2 linked regions of the Homo sapiens genome follow. The protein of the gene in region 2 purifies or fractionates together with the protein of the main gene of each other region. This does not show direct contact. Each region holds a gene or a part of one and is shown on either strand. Other genes may lie near its edges.

Region 1 (3,500 bases), on a different chromosome or scaffold from region 2:
TGATCTAGGAGTTGTTAGATTTTATTATTGGTCTTAAAAGATAAGCTTAGATGTGTTACTTTTTTTGGAGTTTTAGTTTACAGTGATTCATGAATCGGGCAGCTTCAGACCACAGGAGACATGAAGCAGGTAGAAGTTCAAGAAAGCAAGACAAGCAAAATATTTGATTGGTTAGAAGTTAATTGTGGTTTCTGATTAGTAAAGTTCCTAGTTAGAGGTTAGTTGGAGGTTTCTGATTAAGTTTCTTTTAATTGTGTTTTGGTTTGCCTAAGTAGGAACCCAGAATGCTGGAGCCGTCTCAGCCTAATGGTCTCAGCCTAATGGCTTTCTGATTAATTTTTTTAAAACAGTGTAGAAACTAAAGCTTTATAATGTTTACATAGGAAGATTTTTTTTTAATTTTTATTTTATAAAGCAGAGGAGTGAGTTAAGAATCATTTCAAAGAAAGAATTGGCCTTGGCTGGGTGCAGTGGCTCATGCCTGTAATCTTGGCACTTTGGTAGGCTCAGGTGGGAGGATCACTTGAGGCCAGGAGTTCGAGACCAGCCTGGCCAACATGGTGAAACCCCGTCTCCTAAAAATACAAAATTTAGCCAAGCATGGTGGCACACAGTTTTAATCCCAGCTACTTGGGAGGCTGAGGCAGGAGACTCGCTTGAACCCGGGAGGCAGAGGTTGCAGTGAGCCAAGATTGAGCCACTGCACTCCATCCTGGGCAACAGAGCCAGCAAAAAAAAAAAAAGAATTAGCATTAGACATTTAGTGCCTATGACATACAAAACTATGATGTACTTAGAAGATAGGGAGGAATCAAAGGGAATTTCAAACAGATTCCAGGCAAATGGTAAAATTACTCATCCATAAAGGTAAATGTTAAGGAAACAAAGTGAGATTTTTTTAAAAAGAGACAGGGTCTCACTGAAGTGCAATAGCTCAATCACAGCTCACAACTTTCTAGGCTCAAGTGATCCTCCCTCCTCAGCCATCCAAGTAGCTGGGACTACAGGTGTGCGCCACTATGCCTGGCTAATTTTTTATTTTTTTTTTTCAAGAGAAGGGGTTTCGCCTTGTTGCCCAGGCTGGTCTCAAACTCTTGGGCTCAAGCAGTCCACCTGCCTTGGCCTCCCAAAGTGTTGGGAGTTACAGGTGTGAGCCACCGTGCCTAGCCTGAAATGAGATCTTAAGGAAATAAAAAAGTTTCATTTTGGATATATTTTGGGGATATTTAAATAAAAAATTTTATAGATTTCTAACAAAAATATTAGTATTTTGAGGTGTAAGATGTAGAGGTTATTTCCTACTAACACTTGCCAACATTGACACATCTGCATGTCTAATAACACTTAATAGAGGAGGCCGAACTTCATAAGAGGTTAAAGCTTATACCATTGCATAGTAGCACAGAGTTCAAGTAGAATTTTCATTCCCAATCTAATTCTTCTTTTATTCTTTCCATTTGGGACCAGCTTATACTTGAATGCTAATTTTTTTGTTTCTTATCCACTTGAAATGACAAATGAAGGAAGATATGTGGACATATTTAGAATATTTTCTTGGTTATTTTAGGATAGTATTTAGTATTATGTATATACATTATAAGATATACATTGCTATGTAAGTATATACTATACATGTATAGTATATATCATAATACAGATACTGAAGTATACATTAGTGTATTTTATCTTCAAGGATCCTAATAATGTTATACTCAAAATTTATTCTCTAGATGTGAAATGTCATGGTTAGGTAGGGTACCAGATGTTGTTTCCAGATAGAAGTAAGCAGTATCATTTTAAACAAATATTGAAGTGTACCAAATTTCTCGCACAGTTTCTATAAATGAGAATGTATCCAAAAGACACCAAATCTCTCCTTTGGATGATTTCCTTTGATACTGCCTTGTGGCCACCTGAAAAATGGTAGTTACTTGTTGAGAATGTCAGATGTTATTTAAAAAAAAAAAAAGCTTGAAGCCCCCAAATCTGTAAAAAATTAGACTCTAAAACCTGAAGATATTTTTTTTTAGTGGCATTGTACAAGTAGTGATGCTTTAGGACTACACATTGTTTCATGTTGTGTAGGCTAGTCAGCTTTAATAGAAGTAGCCTTTAGGATCAAAACAACTTTTCTTCAACTTTGAATTTTGACTTAACTGGCTCAGATGAAAACTTAGAACTAAAGCTACTTAGAACTTCCTATTAGTGTTGGCCTGCACAGGATTGGGGTTCAGAAGCTAGGAATGAGAGAGTTTTCCAGACCCTGTTTGTTTATTTCTTAGTTAGAATCTGGCTAAGTTATCACTGTGCATGATGAATTTGTTTTTAAACATCGAGATACTAGGTCCTTTTTTCATTTTTGGAAGCAATCTGTGGTTTTGAATTTTAATGTTTGCAGTTTATCACTTTTTAAACTATACTACCATTGAAGTAATGAATACTCATACTTGGACATTCATTATCCAGTAAAGTGTTAGGTCTCATGCACCGATATGTTAAAATAGCTTCACATCTAATGTGTTATGGTGTTTGTATTTAAATGAGCGTATTTTTAAAATCATCTGTTACTCGGTTGGATTAGTTCCATAGGACAAAATACTGACTTAAAAAATCATTGAGCCTGCATGAGATTGGAATAATTAAGTGGTGGTTTCCTTATGAATATAATTCTTTTGAAAAATACATGAAACACATGAGTATTTCCCCAGTACGTATGGATCTCTTTTTCTTTACAAAGTAGTTGAAACATGGCTGGAAAAAAGCTTATTAACATGAATTGAGTAACTGTAAATGTAAACCTGTCCTATCGGATATAACTTACCTAGCATTAATGTCTACTTTTTCCCCCCCTTTTTTTGCCAACGTAAAGTGGCTAAAAGCCAAGGTAAGAGCCATTACTTATCATTTGATCCACAGTATTTCCTCTGTATTGATAGAGGCTGCAGAGCCACTAAAATTTGAAAACTCTTCTTATGTCTGTCTGCTTTTCCCTGTAGGATTTATGTAGATTATTTAATACTCAAGTTCAGTTCAAATAAGCAACATTTAGCTTGGCTGTGTTAATATATCAATGATATATTGACATCTGTGTTTATATAGGAACATTAATTTTGCTAACATTTATTGCTTTGCTCATTTTTCGATAGTTGCCTTGCTTTCATTGACTTACAATTAGGAGGTTTCCCAGACATCATATGTGACTTTGTTACTGAATTGTTAGGATGAAGATGATTTTTCAGATGCGTATTTGAGCAAATTGACAAGTAAGATCTATAGTTTGTGTTCATGCACACATTTCAAAAATTTTAGGAAACCCAGTGTTTGAATGCAGATAAGTTTGATCTCAGTGAACATGTTTAACAATAAAATAAGATATTAAATCCAGTCATCTCACCTGTATTTGGCTACAATGTGATATAAATGGCATAAAATAATAGGAAGACCAAGTGCAAGTGGTTCCTTGACTTTTTAAACTGTAGTACCAAAGTCTTTATTCAAAC
Region 2 (3,500 bases):
TTGGACCCATTGTACAGACGAGGAAACTGAGGCTCAAAGAGTAGTGACCTGTCTCACCTCTGCAGGTGTGGAGGACAGCAAGGGGGAACCAGGGGGCATTTTGGGCCCCCAGCCAGGGCTGTTTGTGGCAGAAAGGACTGGTCCTGCAGGAGGACCCAGCTCCAGGCTCCCTCACCCTCCCTCCTTTTCCTAGTCCTGTAGGCTTGGACCACAACCGGAAGCCCAGCTCGCACCCAGGCTTGGACGACAACCGGGAGCCCAGCTCGCACCCAGGCTTGGACGACAACCGGGAGCCCAGCTCGCACCCAGGCTTGGACGACAACCGGGAGCCCAGCTCGCACCCAGGCTTGGACCACAACCGGGAGCCCAGCTCGCACCCAGGCTTGGACCACAACCGGGAGCCCAGCTCGTACCCAGGCGCAGGGGCCTTTTTTTTTTTCCTTTTGAGATGGAGTCTCGCCCTGTCCCCCAGGCTGGAGTGCAGTGGCGCAATCCCGGCTCACTGCAACCTCCATTTCCCGGGTTCTAGTGATTCTCCTGTCTCAGCTTCCCAAGTAGCTGGGACTACAGGCTCCCACCACCACGTCCAGCTAAGTTTTGTAGTTTTAGTAGAGATGGGGTTTCACCATGTTGGTCAGGCTGGTCTCGAACTCCTGACGTCAGGTGATCCACCCGCCTCGGCCTCCCAAAGTGCTGGGATTACAGGTATGAACAACCGCGCCTGGTCCCTTTTTTTTTTCTCTTTTTTGAGATGGAGTCTCGCTCTGTTGCCCATGCTGGAGTGCAGTGGTGTGATCTCGGCTCACTGCAACCTCCGCCTCCTGGGTTCCAGTGATTCTCCTGCCTCAGCCTCCCGAGTAGCTGGGATTATAGGTATGCACCACGACGCCTGGCTAATTTTGTATTTTCAGTAGACATGAGGTTTTGCCATGTTGGTCAGGCTGGTCTCAAACTCCTAACCTCAGATGATCCACTCACCTCAGCCTCCCAAAGTGCTGGGATTACAGGCGTGAGCCACCGCGCCTGGCCTAAGACTCTGTTGCCCAGGCTGCTGGAGGGCCGTGGTGGGATCCTCCTGCCTGAGCCTCCCAAGTAGCTGGACTACGAGCTCACACTACCAGGCCTGGCTAGGAGGGGGGAGGATTGCTTGAGCCTAGGAGTTTGAGACCAGCCTGGGCAACATAGGGAGACTTCCATCTCCACAAAAAAATAAAATAATTAGATGGGCATGGTGGGGCCAGCCTGTAGGCCCAGCTACTGGGGAGGCTGAGGTGAGGGGATCACTTGAGTCCAGGAGGCGGAGGCTGTAGTGAGCCAAGATCGCACCACTGCACTCCAGCCTGGGCACCTGGGTGACAGAGCTAGACCCTGTCTCAAAATGAAAGAAAGAAAAGAAAAGAGAGAGACAGAGAGAGAGAGAAAGAAAGGAAGAAAAAAAGACACACACACACACACACACACGCACGCACGCACACACGCACACACGCACACAAAACCCCCCAAAAAAACATTTCCTGAGTTCTCCGTGTCAATGAAACTGACCTAGGAGAACAGAAAAGCCCTCAGGGCTGGCGGCTGGTCCGGCGCGTGCAGGCAGCCCCGTCTGAGCCCTGAGAAGCAGCCCGGGCCTCCCTGAATCCCCCATCAAGGGCGTCTTTGTTCTGCCTGCTCCCTCCCGATACAGTTCCTCGTTTTGGGGCCAGGATGATCATCTCCTCCAGGGGCTCTTCCCATCCAGGGCTGGGCAGCAGCCACAGTGTTTTCCCGGCACACCCTGGGCTGCCTCACCCCCCAGGCCGCGAGTTCCCAGGACTGGAACCAGAGGGGCGCTTTCCCCGGCCCCGTGGCTGAGCCCGGGACAGTGTGGGCAGTTCTGGCTCTGGCCTCCCCCGGCCCCGTGGGTGTCAGAAGCTGGGCTGACCACTCTCCCTGGAGCTTTCCTCCCTTCCTCCCTTCCTCCCTTTCTCTCTTTCTCTCTTTCTCTCTTTCGTTTTGAGACAGGGTCTAGCTCTGTCACCCAGGTGCCCAGGCTGGAGTGCAGTGGTGCGATCTTGGCTCACTACAGCCTCCGCCTCCCGGGCTCAAGTGACCCCCTCGCCTCAGCCTCCCCAGTAGCAGGGCCTACAGGCCGGCACCACCATGCCCGTCTAATTATTTTATTTTTTGTGGAGACGAGAACCTGAGGACAGCCATGTCCTGAGGGTGCTCCCTGGGGGCGGAGCCTACCTGGGGGCGGGGCCTTACCTGGACGTGGTACTGCGAGGTCTCGTGCATGATGACGTTGGAGTTGGAATACTTCTTCCTCTGCTCTGAACCGGGAGACACCAGTCACTCCCCCGACGGGCAGGACCCACAGCCTCCCGTCCAGTTGGGACTGGACCCACAAGGGAAGGTGGAGTCAAGCGGAGGGAGGCTGCTCCGTGGACCTCTTGGCCACCAGGAAGGATGTGGGTGTGAAATCAGGACCTGCAGGAAGCCCCCTCCCTCCCTCCAGGGAAGCCCCCTTGGAGAAGGACGCAGCTCGGAGAAGGCGATGGGCTTGCTCTGAGTGGAGTGGGGACCAGCAGCCTGTGCCCGGGGGGTTTCTGTCCCGGAGGGTGAGGGGACAGGAAGGGGGTCCCAGCCCGGCTTCTTCCCACTCTGAGAGCTGCCAGCTTCACTCTCCCTGCCCTCCCAGGTCTTCTCGCTTTCCAGACTAGGCACCTTGTCCAAAGACATAAGTGAAGGGTGCATCTAGCTAGCGAGAGGGCAGGGTCGTCTCTGGGGAAGGGCAGAGTGGGGGGAGGTGGGGGCTGGCCAGGCCCCCCTCCTGGAGCAGACACCTGGCGGCTTATCCTGCCTGAACCTCGCTGTGATCAGGTTACAGCAATGAGTGCAGCGGAATCAATATTGATGCTCCCTGAATTATTAGTAAAGGCCTCTCCCCTTACGGGTGTGGGGGAGGGGATCCAGTGGCCAGGAGCTTTCGGAAGGTTGATTAGGGTCCAGAGGCCTCCCTGGGCACCCGGAGATCCCCTGGGCCAGACCAGGCACAGCTGTGGGGCAGGAGCAGCTGTCCCCCACCTGGATGCAGTGCCCATTTCTCCCCTGTGACGTCCAGCCCGTTCTCAAACCTCACTCACCAAACAGGTCCTTGGGGCTCATCTTGGCCACACCGTCGGACCGGCCCAGGCTGCCACTGCAGGGGAGGGGCTGTCAGGGCAGGGCCAAACTGCACCCCTCCCTGGGGACTGTTCAGAGGGTGAGGGTGGGGTATTCGGGATGGGTGGGAGGGCTCACTTGGTGGCACCCGGGCAGCAGCTCACGGCCCCGGACTGGCTCATGGTGTCTTGGGTGGCGGCCAGCGGGAGAAGGGCAGACCTCAGTGTGGCCCCGGTCTGAGGCCAGTGCCTGTCCCACACCTGGGTGGACAGAAGGGCTGCGCTGACACTTCCTCCGGCCTGGCTGGTTCCTCCCCTCCTTCCCTGGGCCAGATCCCTGACTGGCCTGGCCTGGGTGGG

What was found.
Region 1: the proteins of EPS8L2 (region 2) and ABI1 purify together in Homo sapiens (affinity purification with western blotting; 2 studies listed by BioGRID, with this or other methods). This does not show direct contact.

What each region holds. Positions count from the first base shown.
Region 1 is NC_000010.11:26,770,459-26,773,958, reverse strand, and holds part of ABI1 (abl interactor 1), read left to right. Parts: intron 1-2,869; coding exon 2,870-2,884; intron 2,885-3,500. UniProt on the Homo sapiens protein: May act in negative regulation of cell growth and transformation by interacting with nonreceptor tyrosine kinases ABL1 and/or ABL2. May play a role in regulation of EGF-induced Erk pathway activation. Involved in cytoskeletal reorganization and EGFR signaling.
Region 2 is NC_000011.10:709,231-712,730, reverse strand, and holds part of EPS8L2 (epidermal growth factor receptor kinase substrate 8-like protein 2), read right to left. Parts: intron 3,402-3,500; 5' UTR 3,324-3,401; coding exon 3,280-3,323; intron 3,179-3,279; coding exon 3,123-3,178; intron 2,310-3,122; coding exon 2,245-2,309; intron 1-2,244. UniProt on the Homo sapiens protein: Stimulates guanine exchange activity of SOS1. May play a role in membrane ruffling and remodeling of the actin cytoskeleton. In the cochlea, is required for stereocilia maintenance in adult hair cells.